Linked DNA regions of Homo sapiens: regions 2 and 3 are each linked to region 1. Evidence: fine-mapped expression QTL. A gene starts in region 1. Each other region holds a variant in brackets. All regions are shown on one strand. Distances are from middle to middle.

The links. PIP is the estimated chance that this variant, and not a neighbour inherited with it, causes the effect.
Region 2: its variant is fine-mapped to the expression of CLEC4D in monocytes (TOPMed, PIP above 0.99). The same link has a PIP of 0.9 or more in blood mononuclear cells and whole blood.
Region 3: its variant is fine-mapped to the expression of CLEC4D in whole blood (INTERVAL, PIP 0.98).

Annotation. Positions count from the first base shown.
Region 1 is chr12:8,510,175-8,518,358 of GRCh38, reverse strand. It overlaps CLEC4D (C-type lectin domain family 4 member D), which reads right to left and starts at 4,856. Exons shown (of 6, transcript NM_080387.5): 1 at 4,599-4,856; 2 at 3,031-3,123; 3 at 85-195. The coding sequence starts at 4,626. It also overlaps the pseudogene SUPT4H1P2.
Region 2 is chr12:8,537,610-8,545,793 of GRCh38, reverse strand. It overlaps CLEC4E (C-type lectin domain family 4 member E), which reads left to right and starts at 4,889. Exons shown (of 6, transcript NM_014358.4): 1 at 4,889-5,033; 2 at 5,847-5,939; 3 at 6,488-6,577. The coding sequence starts at 4,997. The variant A/G (reference allele first, on the strand shown) is at 4,972.
Region 3 is chr12:8,395,432-8,403,615 of GRCh38, reverse strand. No RefSeq gene overlaps it. Among named protein-coding and RNA genes, the nearest start is that of LINC00937, 8.8 kb to the right of the region's middle. RefSeq lists enhancers at 5,382-5,881, 5,882-6,383, 6,676-6,725, 6,846-7,105. The variant A/G (reference allele first, on the strand shown) is at 4,674.

The sequences.
Region 1 (8,184 bases):
GGTTCACTACTGACATTCCTTCAGTCAGACTATGAATTTGAACGAAAATGGAAATTAAAAAAGAAATTATCTTACACTCTGTACCTTCAGCACTTTTCAGTTCTGATTTCTCTTTGATGCATTTGAGCTTTGCATGGTGCTCTAACTTGTGCACTCCTGTGCCTCTCTTACAGCGTGAAAAGTTGTGATGAGTCACTGTCAAGGATAAAAGCAAGTTAGGTTTCTTTTTCTATATAACCACTAATTAGGGAAATAGGGGCTGACCTTCCTAAATTTTCTCTTATCCTAATAATTAAGGCCCTCATATTCTCTTTTCTTTCTATGCAGCTTGTTTGTTTCAGCTCCAGGTGAATTGGTTGAAAGCAATTGTTGAAAATTAATATTTTTATTATCATATTGTCCTTTTTTTTTCTGAGACGGAGTCTCGCTCTGTCACCCAGGCTGGAGTGCAGTGGCGCGATTTCGGCTCACTGCAAGCTCCGCCTCCCGGGTTCACATCATTCTCCTGCCTCAGCCTCCCGAGTAGCTGGGACTACAGGCGCCCGCCACCACGTCCGGCTAATTTTTTCTGTTTTTAGTAGAGACGGGGTTTCACCTTGTTAGCCAGGATGGTCTTGATCTCCTGACCTCGAGATCCGCCTGCCTCGGCCTCCCAAAGTGCTGGGATTACAGGCGTGAGCCACCGCGTCCGGCCCGTTTTGTTCTTTACGGGAGAAGTTTTGCAAACTTTTATGTGCACATGCTTGCAAGCATGTTTTTCTATCAAAATTTGTGTTAGAATAGGGGTTTTTGGTGCGCGCTGGGTTGTATGAACCTTATGCATTTCTAAAATACTTTCACCTTGAAATATATAAACAAATGTACCCTTCCTGGACAGCACACACCGGGGCCTGTTGTGGGGTGGGGGGAGGGGGGAGGGATAGCATTTGGAGATATGCCTAATGTTAACTGATGAGTTACTGGGTGCAGCACACCAACATGGCACATGTATGCATATGTAACTAACCTGCACGTTGTGCACATGTACCCTAAAACTTAAAGTATAATAAAATAAATATAAATAAATAATAAAAAATAAACAAATGTAAAAAAGTGGAAAACAGTTTAGCAAATTATTGTAAGGTGAACACTCCAGGTAACAACTACTCAGCTCAAGAAACAGAATATTGCCAAAACCCCAGATAGCCTTCACATCTCAAAGGCAGCTCACTCCCTCGCCTTTATAGGTAACCACTCTCCTTTACAGGTAACCACTCTTGGCTTTTAAAGTAACCGCTGTGCTTTGCTTCACAATTTTGTCACTTACTAACATGTCCCTATAGATCAGATTTGCCTGTTTTTGAACGGCAATCACACAGTATGTATTCTGATTCTGTCTTTTGTTGAGAATTGTTTCTGAAATTTGTCTATTTTGTTACGTGCCCGCTATAATTCATCCATTGTCATTGCTGTAAAGTGAACTATTGTCTTCCTGAAACAAAATATATTTATCTATTCTACTCCTATTAGATGTGTGCCTTGTTTCCAGTGTTTGGCTACTGTGAACTATGCTCTTCTGAGCATTTTCAACCATGCATTTGGAGCACATAAGCATGCGTTTCTGTAGGGCACATACGTAGGAGTGGAACTGCAGGCAATAGCGTACGAATATTGTAAACTATGATAGCGGTAAACTTTTCCAGAGTGACTGTAATGCTTAAACTCCACCAGAAGCAATTCACTAGAGGTCCATTTGCTCCATGGCATCATCAATATTTAGTAGTGCCAGACTTTTTATTGTTGCCATCCTGTTATGTTTGCAAAGGTGTCTCACTGTGAGTTGCATTTGCATTTCCCTGATAATTAATTAATGAGGCTGGCACTTTTGTGTGTTTATTAGACATTTCATTTTTCTCTTTGTTTTAGTACCTATTTAAGACTTTGCCCAGTTTTTTTATTGTAAGTATTTTTCCTACTGGTTTGAAAAAATTTGTATATAATCTACATGTGAATTATTTATTAATTATATGCATTACAAGTATCTTCTCCTATGGCTTTTTATTTTCACTGTTACTGGTATGTTTTGTTGTACAGTAACTCATTTTAATGTAGTATAATTTGTCAATGTTTATTTTCTAGTGCATTTTGTGGCTTGTTTAAGAAATCGTTCTCTACCTCCAGGTCATGAGGATATTCTCCATTTATCTTCTTAAAACTTTATTGATTTACTTTTCACATTTTGGACAATAATCTGCTCTAGATTTGTTTTTGTATACAGTGTGATGCAGGAGACCAATTTCATCTTTTAAATATAAATAATCAATGGGCTCTGCAACATTAATTGAACAAAATTGTCCTTTTCCCATATGTCTGAGATATCTTCTTTTGTTTTATATAAAGAGTCTTATATACATGCAGGATCTGTAACCAAGCTCTCCTTTATTTTCCTCTAGTCTATTTGTCTTGCACCTATATCATATTACTTTAATTATAATTATTTTATGTTTGATATCAGAAAGAATTTTTTTAATGGTGGTGATGGTTTCAAGGGTGTATACTAATCCCCCAAATTGAGATGTATACATTAAATATGTACAGGTTTTCATATGTCAATCGTACATCAATAAAGAGGTTGAAAGAAAGGAAAAAAGAAAGAAAGAGAGGGAAAGAGAGAGAGAGAACAATTCTTCCAACCTTGTTCTTTTCAAAGCCAGTCTATCTGAAAGTTATTTTTCTTCTGCTTACTCTTTTCTCATAAGATGTATCCCTTTGTGATCCCAGTCCAAAATGGGGGGAAATTTGCTATAGTAACCAACTTTTACATGTACAGAAAATGGTCTAAATTCCATCAATCAATCTCTATCACAAGGTACCACCATTGAAAGACAGAAGGTCAAGAATGTAGCTCTGAATATTCAGTGCAAGACCCTGAAGATATTATAGATAGGTTATGCTAGGAAAAATCAAGATACCAAAAGGCTTAGAGCAACTTCAGAAAAGTTGTTTGGAAATAATAATTCAAGAAGAGTTCTACTTTGGCTAATAACTTACCCAAACAACTTGCAATAAAACAGACACTGAGAAGTAAGATGAAAACTACAGCAATAACCGAAGGTATCAGCTGGGGATGCATGCCTCCTTCCACTAGGACCAAAAGAAAAATAGAGATTAACCTCCTCTCAGCTACAAGCTAGGAAAGCTAATTCTACCAAGGAGCAATCTAAAAGTGACAGCAAACCAAATATTTCAGATCTAGAGAAGAGCATAAATATTTTCTCCAAATAAATCAATTTTAGAGCTTATTGATGAATAAATAAATAAGAAAGAAAAATGTAAAATTTCTTGGTAATTTTGAAATGAAAAGAATTTTATAAGTAAGATACAAAACCCAAGAGCCATTAGAATAGATAATTTGAGTACATAAAAATTAAAACTTCTATATAACACAAGCAATGTTAGAGTCAAGGAACGTATGAAAGGAAAGTCTTCTCATAATATTAATATCCGCACTGGATAAAGTATTTCAAAATCAACTAGAAAACTGAGCAAAACTCTGAGCAGGAAATTTGCTGAAATTTTAATTTGCTGAAGTTATAAATAGCCACTAATCAAACAAAAATATGCCCAATCAGGGAACTGTAAACGAAAAGATTGTGGTATAACTTTTCACACATCAGATTTTTTAAGTAAATTAAGTACATGCAGTGTTGGCAAGGCTGAGGGGAAATAAGCACTCTTAGTGAGAAAATAAATGCTGCTGCCTGGACTGGAAAATTAGGAATGCCTTTTAGAAGGATCAATTTAGTGGCATTTATCCATTTTTAAATGCATTTCATTTGCCACAATAATTTCAATTACAGGTGTCTATTCTATAGAAATAATTGAGCTTGTTTATGTTAAAAGATATTCATTGCAGTACTTCTCAAAATAGAAAACACATACTGTAATCTAATATTTACATGTATATTATCAATAGTGGAAATTCTAAATTATGGTCCCTTCACACAATGATATTCTGTATAGTAATTAAATAAGCATGTAATCAGTATATATTGATGCAAAAAATCTCTAAGAAATATTGTTACCTAAAAAGGTAATTCAATAGGATCACACTGTGATTACAGTTTGCCATGGTAGGGTGATGAGATAAAGTAAAACTTTAATTTTAATTTAAACATTTCCACACTTGTTCTATATATCTATCAAAAATATTATTTAATATTATCACAATACAAATCCACTGGTGTCACTTAAGTCAAACATAAAATGGGACAGTTAGAGCCTCTGATACAGCATAAGCCTAAATGCTTTTTCTACATCTTCCTTTTCTCTTTTTTCTTTAAAAGAATCTTCTCATATTACTCTCTTTCTTTTCATCTTATTTCTCTTTTATATATTTTATCTCCCCTCTTGGTCCAATATACATTTTATAAAGAAGTTTCTGTTATCCAACTTATTTGACTCTATGTCCTTCCTCTTCACCAACGTCATTTTTATTTCCTTCCACCTCCTTCTCCCCGTCATCATCAACAATCTTTAAAACTACCATCAATTCATATGTTTTAAATTAGTATAATTCCATCTGCTTCTTTGAAATGGAAAGGAGAGAAAGTACTCACGTTTACTTTGAGGTTTTTCTAGCCCCATTGTCTAATTAGTCTCTTGTTCAATGGTCAGGACGGCAAGAATTTGTTCTATTTTTTTTCCCCCAGAGTATATTTCTGTGGATAGGGGAATATATTCAGAAATACTTGAGATCGAACACCAATGTTACATATTGTAGTGAGATTAGAAAGGTACCAGTATAAGAAAGTTAGCTCAAAAGAAGTCTTTTTCAAAGACAGGGGTTTCCTTTGATACATTCCGGGAGATGAGGCGAAAAAAAAAAAAAAAGGAAATTGAGAAAGCAATACCAAACAACAGTTAGTAGAAACCCACAAGTATGTTGAGATCACTAGATCAGTGTGAAATGTGGAATTTCTCAATTTGTTTTTTTTTTCATTTAGACAAAAAATTTAGCAACGCCCTAAAAGAAATAATTGTTATGCCCAATAAAAATTTAGTAAATGTCCCCTCTTTTTAAATTCTTTTTGTGAATATTATATTTTCAAAGGCAGTTATATTCTTGGGGTGAGTTCTATACTAAAAAGTTCTCTGGACTGAATAAAAAGTTGAGTCTAAGAGAGCAAAAGACAATGTGAACAATGAACAAAAACTTTTAAAGTATACCTTGTGTGTACATGGCATGTGAAGACACAGCAACCTTTGTTTTCGAGTTGAGGAAGAGATGATAGAGCAGTTAATTAAATCCCAAGAACTTTCTAGGTGAGCAAAAAGAGTTGTGTTAAGGCAAAGACAAAGAAAATGTAAGATTCTGTGATAAAGACACCATCAGGGTCCCTGACTTCATTTATAGCACTGTTAGGGAGTGAATGTCTGTATCTCCTCAAAATTCATTGGTGGAAGCACTACCCTCCAACGTAATGGCATTTGGAGGTCAAAAGTTTGGGAGGTAATTAGGTTTAATATGAGGTCATGAGAATGGGGTCCTCATGATGGAATTATAAGAAGAGACCCGGCTAACGAGCTGTTTACTTCCTGCGGGTGCTCAGGCTGTGGCCATCTTCCTTGCTGTTGCTCTTCTCATTGGAGAAGATGGCCCTGGAGACGGTGCTGAAGGACCTGTGGCATCTGTGGGCCTGTTTGCTGTGTTCACTGGTCAAGGTACTATAGACCAGTTTGAATATGATGGTTGTGACTATTGAGATGCATATCTACAGATGAAGGGTAACTGAGAGATGCTATATGGCTGCACCAGCTCCTCCTTTGATGGAATCATTGCGATGATGAGTCCAGAGGACAGCTGGGTCTCCAACTGGCAGCGAGTCAATAACTTTAAGCCAGGTGTATATGCGGTGTCAACCACTGGTCGCTTGCCCTAAGGAATCGTGCGGGAGCTGAAAAGTTGAGGAGTGGCCTACAAATCCAAAGACACAGCTATAAAGACCAGACGCAGGGCTGCCAGCGTCTTTGCTCTCCACCTCCTGCCTCTGCTTATTTTTTGTTCTGGAACTAAATGGGCAGAGCTTCAAATGCTTCCTACCCTCCAATTCAGACTCAGCCAACTGTTGAGAGAACAGCACATCATTTTATCATTTTACCTTATTTGGACTTCAGGTGGGGGTGGGAGGGATTTGGGTTGGTGGATTAACAGATGGAATTGAGGAGAGAGTAGGATGCTGACTTTCCTACCTGTAGCCCAAGGCTGCGCCTTGCTCATGAAGAGGTCTAGGTCAAATGTCAATAAATAGAAACCTCTAGAAAGTTCTTAAGGCCATGACACCTGCCTCGCTTCCCTCTTCCTTTCTCTTAGGCACACAGTAAGAGCTTATTTGCCCTATAAGATACCTTCCCAGAGCAGCAGAGGCCCTTCCACTCCCTCTTGACTGTCTCAGCCTCCAGGATTGCAGCCTTTGTAGTGTGCTTCCTTGCTTCCTATCAGAAGGTGCTGTCCAGAGGCTCAGTAACCCCATCAGCTTGGTGGCCCTGGTGTCTTGTGCTTGTATCCTTCTGCCCTTGAGACCTGGCACAGCAGTATCCCTTGAAGAAATCCTGAGGCTTTGTCGTGCTCCTTGCTCCTTGACCATGTTTAATAATTCTTTTCCCCCTCTGCTCGTCAGTTTTCTTCTCTTTACTGCTCTTCCTATATCTTAGGCCAGTCTCACACACTCACATTTTACATTTTCCTTACTGGAGACCCTTGGGCCTTGGCCGACTGCTGGGTCCTAGTCTGCCTTGTTTGTGCCCCTGTAGGAGGCAGGTCCTTTTCTCCGCCGGCCCAGTAGGGGACCTTGGGTAACATCCCATTTTTCGGCCAAAGTGAGTTATTTGTTTTAGGATAAAAAATTTACTACAAATTCTCATTTACTTAAATTTCCACAGAAATCCTGTTAGTGTCCCCATTTTGATTTCCCTAAGTTCCTTGTTCTCCCTCTGTAAAAAAAGAATGATTACACCTTGCCTGTTTACCTCAGGAATGTTGTGATTGTAGAAACGAAGCTATGTGAAAATTATGCAGCCATAAAAAATGATGAGTTCATGTCCTTTGTAGGGACATGGATGAAGCTGGAAACCATCATTCTCAGCAAACTATCACAAGGACAGAAAACCAAACACCACATGTTCTCACTCATAGGTGGGAATTGAACAGTGAGAACACTTGGACACAGGAAGGGGAACATCACACACCGGGGCCTGTTGTGGGGTGGGGGGAGGGAGGAGAGATAGCACTGGGAGAATGAGGAGTTAATGGGTGCAGCACACCAACATGTCACATGTATACATATGTAACAAACCTGCACGTTGTGCACATGTACCCTAGAACTTAAAGTATAATAAAAAAATTTAAAAAAAAATTTAAAAAAAGAGAGAGAGAGGAAAAAAAAAGAGAGATGAGTTCTCCAGAAGGCAGTCATCTGCAAGGCTAGTAGAAAGCCCTCACTGGTAAAGTGGTTAATTTGACAGGACTCCAAGAACAAATTTACATGACCTGAAGGAGGACACTTTGGGATTCATCACAGAAGCCACATAACCTACAGAGAGCAAAGAAGAGCGACACAGAGCAGCTGCCCATCCAGGATTGCCATGGAGCCAAGGGAGGCTCCCCACAATGGGGAAATGATGAGTGACAGTCCCTAGGGACCCACACTTCTGCCATGCTGGCACTCTGATCTGAGACTTCCAGCTATTAGAACGGTGAGAAATAAATGTCTCTCTTTCATACCACCGGTCTATGGTATTCTGTTATAGTGGCCCAAGCTCACTAAGACAAGTACATAACAGCTTAGAGATCCTTTAAGAAAGATCTCTACAATTTCCAGAATATAGCCCTTTCCCTGAACTCTTCCCTAAGCTACAATATTACTTTAATGATATGTGTGTATATATATTCTGTGATCTTCAGTGAAATATTACTTTACTATGTTAAATTGGGGATGGGAGGAGGTAAAATTATAGATTTGGCAATCCATATATTTTCCGGCACCGCCAGTCACTACAAGAAGTATTCCAATAGCAACAATAGCACTAACCCACAAACTCGGATATGCAACCCTGGAAACTAGATTTTTGGTTAAAGTAATATTTATTTCTATCAAAAGGACCTGGGACTCCTAGAGAATACATAAATCCTGCTTAGAACAGGAA
Region 2 (8,184 bases), 27 kb before region 1:
TTATTGGATTGCTGGACATTGGTACTTAATCTACTGTCACACCTAAACCTGCCAATGAAAAGTGAAAGGGAAATATAATTAAATACAGAAAACTTGCAGGTGATAGTATGGCCAGAAGTAGATACAATCATCCCTTGGTATCAGTGGGGGATTGGTTTGAGGACCCTGCTTTGAATACCAAAACCTGTGGATTCTCAAGTCCCTCATATTAGTACGGTATTTATGAATGAAATTAATGTATGATTTTGTCTCAGTCCAACTAGAATATATTTTAAAAATGAGCATGATGTCTGAATGGCGGACTCTTTCCTTACCCAAACCATTGGAAAAGACTGCCAATCTTCTCTTCATCCTGTTTTTAATTGGACCTGCTAGATGGGAACCCTTAGAATTGCTTAAGCACATTCAAATGATTATTTTAAAACAATATAGGATGGGGGGTTCAGTTTTAATTAAGAATAGGCTGGAGGAAGAATTTCAGCTTTAATTAAGAATAAGTTAGACACAGTCATGTTAATGCCCACAGATTCCCTGTTTAATAATCCAGTATGGCCTAGAAGAAAACTTGGTGGATCCTGGAGATGAATTGTATGTTAGAGAGGACTGAATAAAATCATGCTTCCAACAGCATCAGCTGTACCCAAGATGGCATCACAATTCAAGCTTTGCTAAAAGCTAAAAGACAGTAATATTCTGTTATCTATTTGCCTAAAACCTTATTTTCTATCTCTATTTAGGGAGAAAATCAAAGCTAATACACATTCATGTGGGATGGATTCCAGTATACATTTGCTATGTTCCCATAAGGTTATTTAAATTCTCCTTTTTATCACGGCACTTGGCAAGAAGATACTTAGATGTGATCAATTAGAAAGTAATATTATTAACTGCATTAATGTCATATTAACTCAATTTGAAGATCTAGCAAAGATTGAATTACTGTATAATGCTTGTTAATCATATGAGGCTGATTAACCCAACTAAAGAACAGGGTCCAGGGGAAATGGTAAAATTCTTAGGCATCACCTGGACAGGGGAGATGAGAGGCATCCCTCAGACAACCAAAAATAAGTAATTGTCTCTGCCAGCTCCAAAATGAAAGCAAGAGGTGCAAAGATGTTGGCTTGTTAATGTGGTGGAGAAATGGCATACCCCTGTTAATAAAGTTATCAAGAAAAAAGCTAAATTTGACTGAAGTTTTGAGCAAGATAATACATTTGTATTTTTTTTTGTTTTATGTTTTTGGAAATTAAAAAGCCCTTGTAAAGCCCTGTGGGGCCCCACGAGTCCCAAACACAGACGATTTAAGAAGTTTCTGCAGCACACAGTCAAGCCATGCTGACTGGAGCCGCTGGCAAAAGCCTGTTACTGCCACCTAGTGGCTGCCTGTGGGATTTTTGTAATAAAAAGCTACCTGGCTGCAGCTTGAAGTAGCACCATTTAAAAGGAATTGCTAGCTTGTTACTGGGTTTTAGTTGAAACTGCTTTTTGTACTGAAGGACATAAAATTATTTGAAAACTCATAACATCCTATTTATATCATATCATCATTCCAACAAGAAATGAAATGCACAGAATTCCCTCCTTGAATAGAAAGGAGATACTCAAGAATGTGAAATGGGGTTACCCAATGCATGCACAGTCAGGTGGCTGACAGGTCACCATAAATTTGGTTCCCCTGAGGAGTTGGCTAAACCTATAGCTGAATAGGCCCCTCTCTCTGGTCAGCTGTCAAGGCAGCAGTGTGGCTTACAGATAGATGGCAGTTCAAGGGTAAAGGGCTGGCCGTCAACCTGGGAAGCAGCAGCCCTGGGATCAGTTAGTGATTGCATGTTAGATGAAAAGACAAAAAATAAATCTGCCCCAAGGCTAAAATTGAGTGATGTTTCTCTTGGCATCAAAGAAAAGTAGATACTAACAATACTCGTATGGCATAGATGTTTACAGCTTTTACTGATTCTTTTTCAGTTGCCTGAAATATTGACAGGCAATATAGTTTAGAAAAGGGACTTAGACGATAAGTTCCTGGATGATATTTAAAAAGGGAAATCAAAGAATCTATTGCTGAACAACAGGTGCTGGAGAGGATGTGGAGAAATAGGAATGCTTTTACACTGTTGGTGGGACGTAAACTAGTTCAACCATTGTGGAAGTCAGTGTGGAGATTCCTCAGGGATCTAGAACTAGAAATACAATTTGACCCAGCCACCCCATTACTGGGTATATACCCAAAGGATTATAAATCATGCTGCTATAAAGACACATGCACACGTATGTTTATTGTGGCACTATTCACAATAGCAAAGACTTGGAACCAACCCAAATGTCCATCAATGATAGACTGGATTAAGAAAATGTGGCACATATACACCATGGAATACTATGCAGCCATAAAAAATGATGAGTTCATGTCCTTTGTAGGCACATGGATGAAGCTGGAAACCATCATTCTCAGCAAACTATCGCAAGAACAAAAAACCAAACACCGCATGTTCTCACTCATAGGTGGGAATTGAACAATGAGAACACTTGGACCCAGGAAGGGGAACATCACACTCTGGGGACTGTTGTGGGGTGGGGGGAGGGGGGAGGGATAGCATTAGGAGATATACCTAATGCTAAATGACGAGTTAATGGGTGCAGCACACCAGCATGGCACATGTATGCATATGTAACAAACCTGCACGTTGTGCACACGTACCCTAAAGCTTAAAGTGTAATAAAAGATAAATAAAAATAAATAAAAATTAATCCCCCCCCCCAAAAAAGAAATCATTAAGCATGGTCAACTTTAGAAGAATGCACTAAGGATAGTTAAGAAGGCTTTTACTTGTCACATGCTTTTCATAGTATTAATCATAAAACATATTACTCGTATAATTTGGGGAAAATCAATGAAACAAAAGATATAAAAACATTTTGGCTGGAAAAAATATTAATTTATTGATTTCTGTTTAATTGTATATTGATAAAAATTAACATACAATTGTTTAGTAATATTGATGGTTGCTGGTTGATTGTAATTAATAAAAGATGGACTGTGGTAATTATGTTCATCATTTTATAATTCATATAGCTCATCCACTAGATAGTTTCTCTTTTTTTACTGATCAAAAGCTATTTGCTGAGAATACACATATTAAATATGGGTATATTCTATAATATACACATATATAATTTAAAGATATTTTTAAAATTGTATTACTATAAAACAGAGAATGCAGAGAAAATTGACCAGTACCTTGAAATAATAAAAAGTCCCTTTGAGAACAAGAATATTTTCTCACACATGGAAAATTCGTGAGTCACTGGATGTGGGGATTTACCAAGTCATGTACATCATACTTATGCCTCCTGACTCGTGAACTTAAATAAACTGAGACCAGTGTGATCTTATTCTTAAGTATCTTTAAGTAAGGAGAAGGCACATATCTAACTATTCTTCCAGAGAAGCATTAATTCTTTTTTTTTTTTTTTTTTGAGACAGAGTCTCACTCTATCGCCCAGGCTGGAGTGCAGTGGTGCAATTTTGGCTCACTGCAACCTCTGCCTCCCAGGATCAAGCTATTCTCCTGTCTCAGCCTCTCAAGTATCTGGAATTACAGATGCGTGCCACCACACTTGGCTAATTTTTGTATTTTTAGTAGAGGTGGGGTTTCACCATGTTGGCCAGGCTGGTCTCAAACTCCTGACCTCAAATGATCCACCCACCTTGGCCTCCCAAAGTGTTGGAATTACAGGCATGAGCCACTGCTCCCGGCCCAGAGAACCATTAAATTCTAATATCTAATTGAAATTGCTTTTTCTGACCTTCAAATACATTTCTCCTACTGTAGGCTGTAACATAGAACTAAAATCCCCAAATAATTGAGAACAGGAGAATTAAACTGCCTGCTGGGTCTCTGAGACTTCAGAAGCTGCGTTATGTTGTGAAAAACTAAGCTGAGTTTCAAAGTGGTCTAATCACATGAGGCTGTCCTGCTGAGGGGGACTCTAGTAGTCAGCCTAGTAGTAGCAGCCTAGTAGTCAGCATAAGATAAGAGGGACATAAATCCACAACATTAGAATATTCAAGAGCTGCAAATGAAGAAGAAAGAAAAACCATAAAAGATGAAAAAGAGGACGGGCGCGGTGGCTCACGCCTGTAATCTCAGGACTTTGGGAGGCTGAGGCGGGCGGATCACGAGGTCAGGAAATTGAAACCATCCTGACGACCACAGTGAAACCCCGTCTCTGCTAAAAATACAAAAAATTAGCCAGGCGTGGTGGCGAGCGCCTGTAGTCCCAGCTACTCGGGAGGCTGAGGCAGGAGAATGGCTTGAACCCGGGAGGCGGAGCTTGCAGTGAGCGGAGATCATGCCACTGCACTCCAGCCTGGACGACAGAGCGAGACTCTGTCTCAAAAAAAAAAAAAAAAAAAAAGATGAAAAAATTCAGGTTGCCATGTCCTAAATACATACACTATATGCCCAGCTTTGTGCTATGTTGTCTAAGTCTTCTTTTCAGTTACCAAATGTGTGGATGGTACAGATCCAAAGTGAAATTCAGAGTGCAGAGGTGAGCTCCATATTGTCAAGGAAAAACTGGGGGATGAGTTATGCCTTGAAGAAACTAGAGACATTTGGTCCAACGAAACGAAACAACATTTAAAAAAAAAACTCTCCTGTTTCCCCATGGCTAGCCTATTTGTGTTGATGCTTACCATTTCATAATTTCCTCATTTTGTTGTTACATGGAGTGAAGAGAACTGACATGCTGTCCAATAAACTTCCTTGTCCTCCTTATGCAAGAAAGGAAATCCTGACTTAATGCGTAGCCACAGAACAAGTTAATATTCTACATCTATCGGAGCTGAACTTCCTAAAAGACAAAGTGTTTATCTTTCAAGATTCATTCTCCCTGAATCTTACCAACAAAACACTCCTGAGGAGAAAGAAAGAGAGGGAGGGAGAGAAAAAGAGAGAGAGAGAA[A/G]CAAAAAACCAAAGAGAGAGAAAAAATGAATTCATCTAAATCATCTGAAACACAATGCACAGGTAAAATCTGCAACTCTTCCTTTCCTTCCATAGATCTCTTTTTGGAACAAGTGATAAATATGGTGAAAGACAGGACAATAGAAAAGTATTCACTGAAGTTAAAAAAAAAAGTGGGGGGACAGAGGAAGAGAGAGAGAGAGATTTAAAGACTATTTCTTATACCAGAAAGCCTGCTGGCCTCTAGCTAAGGGAGAGCTATCAGTTTCCACCCTTTCTGCAATACATTGTGTCCCTTTTGGCAAGTCACTTCACTTCTCTGGAACTCTCTTTGTCTGTAAAATGTTTAATGGGAGGAAGAGAGGAACTATTAGATGACTGTTAACATTTTACCTAATTTACAAAGCGCTTGAAAAGTGAGACACAGAAAAAAAAAAAAGATCAGGAGAAGGACAAGAAAAGCAAAGACGAGAAAAGGGAAAAGAAAGAAAAAGAAAGAAGGGGGGCCTTAGAAAATACTGAAAAAAATTTAACTGAGAGACTTAGAAAGGAAAAATTGTATATCTGAGTTCATGAGTCAGAGTCTTACTCCAGGGGTGCTAAACGTGTGGTCCTCAGACCAGCAGCAGCAGTAGCCCCTGGGAACTTGTTGGTTCCATACAAACTCTACTGAGTTGCTAACTCTGGGGGTAAGGGTCAGCAATCTGTGTTTCCATAAACCCTCCAAGTGATTCTGAAGCATGCTGAAATTTGGGAATTACTCAGTACAAACAATGGAAGTAGAAGGAAATAAGTAAGGATGAATAAGAATCTCTTCTATCTCTTTTGTACCTTGCTTAGGGAAGATTGATCATGTTTGTGTCTTTCTTTCTACAGAGAGAGGATGCTTCTCTTCCCAAATGTTCTTATGGACTGTTGCTGGGATCCCCATCCTATTTCTCAGTGCCTGTTTCATCACCAGATGTGTTGGTGGGTTCTGAAGGTCAAATTCAATTTAATTCTTCCTGGTGCATATTAGGAGAAAACTCTTCCATGCTGCCTGTAGACTCTCTTTGCCCTCAAAGGGTCTTTCTATTTCACCCTTTTTTTTTTCCCTATTAATCTCTAGGTTATTTCTCAAACCAGAAACCTCAACAAGCAGGGAACTGTTTCTGAATTTTAATCACCTGTGACTTACTTTTCATGATAGACATTTTTCACTTCCTTGGCAGTCCTGAATCCTCCTCTTTCAGCCTCTATCATTAGTGTAACCTTCTCTAGGAGAGTCTGCCTTAGAGCTTGAACTACTGGTCGGCACCAGAGATATGACTAATTACTTTTGGAAGGAAGGGTAGAGAGAGTTGGACTTGGCATAAGAGGTAGTGCAAACATATCTATTTTCTCTGGGTCGTAAGAAAAAGCAGATTGTAAGAAAAAACATGATAATTATTGGCACTTTTGTTATAAATACAAAACTGAGGGAACTGACATTTTTAACCGAAATAAGACTAACAAACATTATGCCCTTTCTTTTACAGTGACATTTCGCATCTTTCAAACCTGTGATGAGAAAAAGTTTCAGCTACCTGAGAATTTCACAGAGCTCTCCTGCTACAATTATGGATCAGGTATAATAGTCCCAAAGGTGAACATCAAAATTTACAAAGCAACATTTTCTGGCTTCTAGATTGACTTTGGGACAGGTGAGATATAGCTGGATTAGGTCTTATTTTTCAAAAGCAAAATGTAAAATCCTAGAAATTTGGTGATGCAATTAGCATTGGGGCAGAAAGTCTTGGGGACATTATAGTAAACTTTTAGAATAAATTTGAGGGGTATGTCTGAACAGTAAATCTGGAAGTGGAAGGTATTATTCCCAGGAGTGTACCTTTTTTTTCATTCACCTACTTCCAAAATGAGATGGAGAAAAAACGTATGGAGTAGAGAATTTATAAATATCTCACAAATATACTCTCTATGCTCTTCTATGTCATCCTGTTGCAAGTCCTAGCAAAATGCTACATGACACTAAAAAAGTGACTTCCTTCTCTGAGCTATAATTTTCTCACCATTAAATTGAGAGAAGTTAGAAGAATTATTTATAATAGACCTCAAAGGCAAAAGTTCTGTAATTCTAAGAAATCTAACTGTAGGGACCAGCCCCACAGGGTTGGTGGGTCTCTCCCTGTGTCCAGAGACGAGAGCATGTAGAAATAAAGACACAAGACAAAGAGATAAAAGAAAAGGCAGCTGGGCCCAAGGGACCACTACCACCAATGCGCGGAGACCGGTAGTGGCTCCGAATGTCTGGCTGCGCTGTTATTTATTGGATACAAGGTGAAAGGGGCAGGGTAGAGAGTGTGAGTCATCTCCAATGATAGGTAAGGTCATGTGGGTCACGTGTCCACTGGACAGGGGGACCTTCCCTGCCTGGCAGCCGAGGCAGAGAGGGAGAGGAGACAGAGAGAAAGACAGCTTACGCTATTATTTCTGCATATCAGGGACTATTAGTACTTTCGCTAATTTACTACTGCTATCTAGAAGGCAGAGCCAGGTGTACAGGATGGAACATGAAGGCAGACTAGGAGTGTGACCACTGAAGCACAGCATCACAGGGAGACGGTTAGGCCTCCGGATAACTGCGGGCAAGCCTGACTAATGTCAGGCCCTCCACAAGAGGTGGAGGAGCAGAGTCTTCTCTAAACTCCCCCAGGGAAAGGAAGACTCCCTTTTCCTGTCTGCTAAGTAGCGGGTGTTTTCCCTTGACACTTAACGCTACCGCTAGACCACAGTCTGTCTGCCTGGCCACGGGCGTCTTCCCAGACGCTGGCGTCACCGCTAGACCAAGGAGCCCTCTGGTGGCCCTGTCCGGGCATAACGGAAGGCTCGCACTCTTGTCTTCTGGTCACACCTCACTATGTCCCCTCAGCTCGTAGCTCTGTACGGCCTGGTTTTTCCTTGGCTATGATTATAGAGCGAGGATTATTATAATATTGGAATAAAAAGTAATTGCTACAAACTAATGATTAATGATATTCATATATAATCATATCTAAGATCTATATCTGGTATAACTATTCTTGTTTTATATTTTATTATACTGGAACAGCTCGTGTCCTCTGTCTCTTGCCTCAGCGCCTGGGTGGCTTGCCGCCCACATCTAACCCATCTATATACTACAGTATGGAGATTTGATTGAGGATACATTGTTTAGGTAACATAAGAGATGGCTCTT
Region 3 (8,184 bases), 110 kb after region 1:
TAATCTGCAAAACAATGTGGCTATAACGTGGTAATTGGCCTTCCACATAATTAAAGGAACATTTCCTCATCAGAGCTGTTCCATCAGAGACCCAAAGGCTATCGTTGTACAAATCACCTACTTAGGAAAACCTTTATTCCCAGTAGCCTATAAAAATCTGGTTATGCAAACAGATTTGCTTATTCAGTAACATTAATGGCTTCTCATAGTTAAAAAGTCATCAATGTGATTGACCTATAATCTGTTTCCTCTGTGACCAAGTGTCAATTTTATTTTGACAGTTAGGAGCCTTTTGACTCTTTCACAGCTAGCATGAAGGCACAGGGAGGGAAATCTCAAAAACCAACAACCTGTGTATTCCCAGCCTATTAATCAATAGAAAATCACTTCAACTGGATTAGGGTCTTGTACCTGGAAGAAAGGCTGTTATGGACATTGGAATTGGATTTTTACACTTGATATGACACCTCCTTGAGTCAGATCAGATTCGTGTTTGATAGACTCTTGCCGAAAAATTGCTCCAGGGTCTGTGCGGTAGCTAAAGCCTTTTTGTTGTTGTTGTTGTTTTAAAAGCAGCATTAAATGTTTTCATGAAGACCTTCCCAGCAGTGATGTTATTGGGAATATGGTCTTTAGCTCTGGTCCTGAATAACTCACACTGAGGAAACCTCTAACAAGTGTTGTATTGGAAGATGTCTGATGGATGGTTGGTTTTAATAACAAATCTCTTCCCTTTTTCTGTCCCCTGTGTTCTATTCTCCTTTCTCTATACATTATTCTGGGAGGATTCACCTATTCCCAAAGTCCTTTCCTCTTTATTTCCATTCCAGAGCTCTCTGTATAACTCCAGGCTGATGAATCCAATGGCCCAGTTGTTATCTCTATTTGACTGTCTTTCTTGCATTGACCTCATCTTACCTTGCCTCTCCTGATTTCCTCTTCTGCCTGGGCTCAGCACGTCAGATTCACACCACCATCCACCCAGCTTCCAAAACACCTGGGCCTCCTCCTTCGTTCCTCCCTCTTTCTCGTCAAGTTAGTCTACTGTCTCTTCTCCATCCTCACTGCCACAGCCTTGGTCCAGCCAACCAACTTGTCTCACTTGGCTTATTGCAGCCTACTACCTGGTCTACTCACCTCCCACTCTCCTCCAGCCAGACTGCTCTTTTTATAGCACAAAGTGGATCATTACTCCCCTGCCTAAAAACATCTACTGTCTCCCTTTGTGTACAGGATAAACACGACAAAGAGCCTTTAAGATTTGGCTCCAACTTACCTCTATATTAGTCACTTTTTATAATTATATGAACATCTCTCAGCTCCTCACCCTCTCACGTCTCGATTTTTGCACATGCTCTTCCCCCTGCTGGGAATGATCTTCCACACCTCTCCTATCGACCTGGCTAATTCCTACCATTTTCTAGTCTTCAACTGAGGAGTCCTGTGGTGGAGAAGGATTTCTCACCACCTGATAGAGATTGCATGCCCACCCACCTCCGGGCTTTTATTTATTTATTTATTTATTTTTTTGATGGAGTCTCGCTCTGACCGTGCAGGCTGGAGTGCAGGGGCACGATCTTGGCTCACTGCAATCTCCGCCTCCCAGGTTCAAGCAATTCTCTCACCTCAGCCTTCTGAGTATCTGGAAATACAGGTGCCCGCCACCACATCTGGCTAATTTTTTTGTATTTTTAGTAAAGACAGGATTTCACCATGTTGGCCAGGCTGTTTTTGAACTCCTGGCCTCAAGTCATCCACCCACCTTGGCCTCCCAAAGTGCTGGGATTACAGGCATGAACAGCTGCACCTAGCCAATCGGGTGCCTCTTCTATGTGCTCCCATTGCCCCAGACATACTGTCACCATAACTTTTACCATTCTGTGTTGAAAATGATTTTTTTTTTGCTTTTTATTTCTCTCACTAAATGCAAAGCTCATTGAAAAGAGGACAGTGGTTGTTCACTATTGTACTCCTAACCTTTGACTCAGTGTCCTGAGGTTGGCTCTAGAGCTGTGCACACATGTTCAGACATTGGAGCACATCTTGTCTAGCACCTCTTTTTAGGTGACTTAGAGAAAAGTCAGTAGGTACTTCCCCAAGGATGAAACAGAAGCTTCACCTAAACCAGTTCTTCAACTTCAGCCTGCATTAGAATCCTCTGAGAGCTTGTTAAAAATCCAGTCTCCTAGAGCCCACTCTTCAAGAGTCCGTGAGTTGCTTCATCATCAATATATATATAGAATTCAGGCAGTCTTCAGCGCCAGCCTGGTCTGAGCCACTGTGGACTCCCACCTGCAGAATCTCCCTGCTGGTCTCCTTGCTTCTGCTCTTACCTTCTTATTACCTATTCAAGTAGCCAGGGTGATCCTTTTTAAAATTTTTTTTAACTTTTTTTTGAGATGAAGTCTCACTCTGTTGCCCAGGCTGGAGTGCAGTGGTGCTATCTCAGCTCGCTGCAGCTCTACCTCCTGGGCTCAAGCCATCCTCCCACCTCAGCCTCCTGGGTAACTGGGACCACAGACATACACCACCACACCCGGCTAATTTTTGTATTTTTTGTAAAGACACGGTCTTGCTATGTTGCCCAGGCTAGTCTTGAACTTCTGTGTGCACCCACCTCAGCCTCCTGCATTTTGAGGAGGCCCCTCTTGTAGGGATTTTGATGCAGACGCCTGGGTGCCTCATGTCTCCTCCCATCTCTCTCTGTCTTTCTGTCTCTGTCTCTCTCTCTCTCTTTCTCTTTGCCTTATTGCTGCCCTGGGGACTAGACTCTGCCTTAGGCATCCCTCTGAATCTTGTTTGCTTTTACACTGAGGCTGCTTTAAATTGCACCTTGATCTGAAGCCTTGGGCTTCTGTTCCTACTCCTTGCTTTTGTTGGAAGGGCCATGCAGCTTCTTGACAAATTGCAAAGGTGCCCACGAGTTTCCAAGTCCCCAAGAACCAAACCAGATGACAAACAAAGATGCAGCCCACAGCTGGAGAGACAGATTTCATGTCCACACAGAGACTCGAAGATGCTGAACTGAAATCCACCCCGAAACCTGCTTTCTCTCTCATTTAAGTTCAATGTGAACTGGGGGCTTGCAAGGCAGGGCTGGTGACCATTCACAGGGCAAAGATGCTTTGAAATGGCAACTGAGAATGGTGTGGTGGTTGACAGATGGCACGTCAGAGCATAGATTAACATGAAAAGAGAAACTCACCCCTTGGGGGGAGTGTGTGAGGCTGGCAGCCACACAGAGGGCTTTTCCTGCGAGCTCTTGCATAGATGCAAACAGCCAGGAGGTTTTGCTTTCTGAGCCTGAGTGGAAGCATGTTCCTCCCTGCACATTGCCGCTCTGCAGCAAATGTTTATTCCTGTTGCATTGATTAAAAGTGCTTACCAGGCCGGGCGCGGTGACTCACGCCTCTAATCCCAGCACTTTGGGAGGCCGAGGCAGGCGGATCACAAGGTCAGGAGATTGAGACCATCCTGGCTAACACGGTGAAACCCCGTCTCTACTAAAAATACAAAAAAAATTAGCCGGGCATGGTGGCGGGCGCCCGTAGTCCCAGCTACTTGGGAGGCTGAGGAAGGAGAATGGCGTGAACCCAGGAGGCGGGGCTTGCAGTGAGCCGAGATTGTGCCACTGCACTCCAGCCTGGATGACAGAGCAAGACTCCGTCTCAAAAAAACAAAGTGCTTACCGAAGGGGTTTGAGGGCATTGGTGACAGTGTGAGTTATGGCTCTGCCGGCTGCCAGTGGAGCCAGCCGCTCTGCACAGCTGTGCAAGCATGTTTTGAAAAGTGGCTCAGCTGGCCAGGAGTGACTGGCTGTAAATATTGCTGCCACAACATCTTGTAGCCTGATTGGGGCCATGTTTGCAGAACCCCTAAACCACTACACTTGTTCAGGCTTAAAAATAAGCTTACTTTTTTTTGTTTGTTTTGTTTTGTTTTATGAGATGGAGTCTTGTTCTGTCACCGGGTTGGAATGCAGTGGCATGATCTCGGCCCACTGCAACCTCTGCCTCCTGCGTTCAAGTGATTCTCCTGACTCAGGCTCCCGAGAAGCTAGGACTACAGGCGTGTGCCATCATGGCCAGCTAATTTTTGAATTTTTAGTACAGACGGGGCTTCACCATGTTGGCCAGGATGGTGCGATCTCTTGACCTCGTGATCTGCCCGCCTTGGCTTCCCAAAGTGCTATGATTACAGGCGTGAGCCACCGTGCCTGGTCAAACATAAACTTACTTTCTTACCCCTTCTCCTGAACTCTATTTGCTTCTTTTCTCAACTTCTGCTGAACTCTATTTTGCTTCTTTTTCCTGGATAAAGCTCTTCTTTATCCAGAAGAGCTTTTAGCAACAAAGTTACCCAATGCCCTTCCCTAGTCTCTCCTTGCAACTGGCTCTCAGCGGATGGGGGTGGGGAGGGGTGGTGGGTAGGAGGAAATCCTTGACAGAACCAATTTACATGACTGTTTGGAGGACTCTCGCTAGCCCCAGGAGGTGTTTGCATTTTTAAATTGGTTACTAGTGTCAGAATGTTTCATGAGTAAGAGCACAGCCTCTAAGTTGGATACCATGAATTTAAATCTCAACATGGCCATTTTGTATATAACCAGAGGATGGATTTGGGGACCCAATGGATCTACCATGACATGAACTTGCACCAACATTCACCTGACC[A/G]CCAAAATGCCTATTCTGTCTGGTAGATCCTAGTCTCGCCCTAGTGCCAGTTCAGAGCCTGTGTCCAGTGATCCTGCACTGGTCTCATTAGTTCCTTTTCTCCTATTCAGTCATCCTGGTAAAAGGCTGTGTATTCCCTTGGGGGCAGGCTGGGAGAAAGATTGACAGTATTAATTTGTGGCAGTGGAGCAGAGTCCTTTCTGGAGGGGACCTGGCTTCCCATTCAGACAAGGGACTCTGGGTCTGTGAACTGGCTTATATCTGGGAATTGACTGGGGACTGTGACTCTGTTTTTAGGATTCAGATTAGACTTCTGCTCACCTGACCTAGAACTCTTCTGCAAACACAGATCCAGTAAAAATGTGGCAGGCTTCTTATCTATTTCACTTCTAGGAATGCCACGATCAGCTGGCACCATAGGTCTCTGCGAGTCAGGCTATTCTGGTTGCAGCTTTGACTCTGCTGTCTTTTAATGATAACTGCATCCACCTTGCCTTTGGGGACTGAGTGCTCTGATCACTTGGTCCCAGCCTCTGTAGTGTGCCTATGTCACTTACCCTCTTTATACCTCAGTTTCCTCCTCTATAAAATGGGCATCCTAATAGCACCCACCCTCAGGGCTGCTGTGGGGTATAGATGGATTAGCATATGGAAAGTAATAGAAGAGCATCTCAAAGTCCATGTGTCGTTATCAGAATTATTTCATGATAGGGAGAGCTGGAGGAGGGAGGAAGGTGCTGAGCAGACCCATGTGCTCTGCCACCAGTGTTTCCTGAGCACCTACTGTGTGCTGCCCACTGTGAGAGCTGTTAGGGTTGAAATAGAGAGCACAGCAGGGTAGGGGCTGCCATCAGGAGCTTAGTTGGGGAGACCATTGTGCAACATGGTTCCAGCTCTTGGGGTGGAGAAGCTCAGGGGCCTAGGATCCTGGGCAGAATCTGGGGAAGGACACAGCCTCCCCAGCCTCTCCTGCCTCCTCTGCCTCCCTGGCCTCCTCTGCTTCTGTGGCCTCTCCTGCCTTCCTGGCTTCCCCTTCCACCCCGGCCTCCCCAGTCTCCCCTGTCTCTCCTGCTTTTGAGGTGGGCCAGGAGCTGCTGGTGCTCACTTAGCCTGTCCTGGACTCTGGGTGTAGCACCTCCATGTCCAGAAAATACCCCCGAGTTCAGCTCATCACACAGCCAAGGAAGGAGCTCCACACTGACACTAAGGGTGCATCCTGGGCTCCTTCATCAGGGCATGCCTCCAAAATATTTCTCCACGTCTCCTCCCTTTGCCCACCTGCATTGTCTCTGTGCCTCAGCCCCGGCTGGGGGCCTGCAAGGATCCCCTATCTCCTCTGCCCCTGCACGGCTGGGTCCAAGGCCATCTGTCCACCCACCACACCTCTCTCACCTTGCCCACCACGCTCCAGCCCCACCGTCCTCTTTCTGCTTCTTTCCCAGCCTCTGGGCTTTTGCACACGCTGTTCCCTCTGCCTGAACACCCTCCACTGGGCTGAGAACAACTCTCTGAGACCTCTCTCAGCTGTTGCTTCCTTTGGAACAGCCGCTGCTGCTGTCCCTCTCCCAGCTCCAAGACCTGCTGAGCCTCCTGTCTTTTTTAGTTCCCATGCACCCAGCACTTCTCCTTGGCCTCCTTTGGCCCAATTGACAATGTCCATTCTCAATGCCTTCTCACCCAGTGCTGAGCCCCACTGGGTGAAGGCAATGCCTGTCATGTTCACCACAATATCCCCTCCCCCATCACCACGCCTGGTCCACAGTGATGCTCAGAAAAGATCTGTTGGTAGGCAATGCGAAGGTGCATTCATGTCATCCTGCAGGCGGAATTCTCCACGAGTTTTGAGCAGCCTCGGTTTTCCCACCACCTCCAAATCATGGAAGACACAGGGTAAGAGCAAAGACAAGGTGGCTGTGGCCAATGTCCACCCTCTCGGGGCGTCCCTTCTCTTCCTCCTCCTTGAGCAGGGAGACCATCGGGGTGCAACCTGGCTGGGGTGGCGAGGAGGTGCAGGGCCTGGCCAGAGCGGGCCTGGCCACGGGCAAGGGACAGCGACCTCCTGGGCCAGGACGGGTGAGAGCGGCGCAGGCCCGGGCCCGGCGTGGTGGCGGTGCGCGTGAGCGGCCAGCAGAGGGCGCCAGAGGACCACGAGCGGCCCGCGGAGGAGCCCGCGCCGCCCCGATGCCCAGCTCCGCGCCGCGCGGACCCACCGAGCCCGCGCTCAGACGCCCCAGCTCCGCCGAGAGGCCGCTTGCGCAGGCTCCTTCTTCTTCCGCAAGTGTAGGCAGAGCCCCCGGAGCCATGGCCAGCCCTTCCCGCAGCTCCGAAGCCACTGGCAAGCCCCGAGGCAGGGATGGCCGGCCCAGGAGGGAGGAGGACGACGTCCCTCCCGAAGAGAAGAGGCTGCGGCTCTTGCTGGAGGGGGGAAGCGCACAGCCCCAGGACGGCGAGGACGGGGAGGACGCGCCGCGGCCGGGCAGGGTGGAGACCGGCACCCAGACAGGTGGCGACGGCAGAGGAGTAAGTGACGCGGGCGCGGGGGTCCGGGGGTGCCGGGTGCGCGGGGATGCGGGGAACGAGGGGTAGGGGCGGCGAGAGGCTCCGTGGCCTGCCCCGGGTTGAAGTTGGGAGGGCGGCCTTCATTCTGAACCCATTTAGGCAGCACGGGCAGCCCTCCTCGCCGTGGGCTGCATCAGAGCCCCCCCTGCCCAGTCTTGGGGTTGCTCCCGGATGCTGTCTGGGAGGCTTGGTCATGGTGACATCCTCATCTCCCCGTGCACGTTACCGCATTCGGAGCTTGGGTCACCTGGACACTGAACTCAGGCGAATTTTCTCTGAGATCCCGGGAGAAGGAGGACAGTTCTTTGGAAGGTTTTGCAGGGCCGATCACGGAAAGGATGAGAAGGGAGAGGTCCTGGTCGGGGACACAATTACAGTGGCAGTGTAACACCAGGAAACTTTATTGCGTGAAGTCCTTCTCACTCCCTCTACCTCCTTCTTTTACGTGGACTCTGCCAAAGACCAGGATACCAGAATGCAGTGGAGTGACCAAGTGTAGTGGGATCTTGGGAACGCGAGTCTGGAGCCAGGCGGCTGGGGTTTGCATCCTGGTTCTGCCCCTCCTTAGCTGGCTGACATGGCACAAGCCACTTACCCTCTCTGAGCCTTACTGTCTTCAGTGGCAAATGGATCTGTCAACGGGCCCCATTGCCTGGGGTTGTTACTGCTGAGATTAAGGGATGCTCGTCCATAGAAGCACTTAGCGTTGTGCCTGGCACATAGTGTATGGTGGATAAATGGGACTTAGGACTAAAACTCATGCCTTGGTGTGTTTTTGCAGTGATGTTTTGTTCTGGGGTGCATCACAAGAGACAAGGTTCCTGGCCGGGCATGGTGGCTCAAGCCAATAATCCCAGCACTTTGAGAGGCCGAAGGGGGACGATCGCTTGAGCCCAGGAGTTTAAGACCAGCCTGGGCAACATGGCGAAGCCTCATATCTACCAAAAAAAAA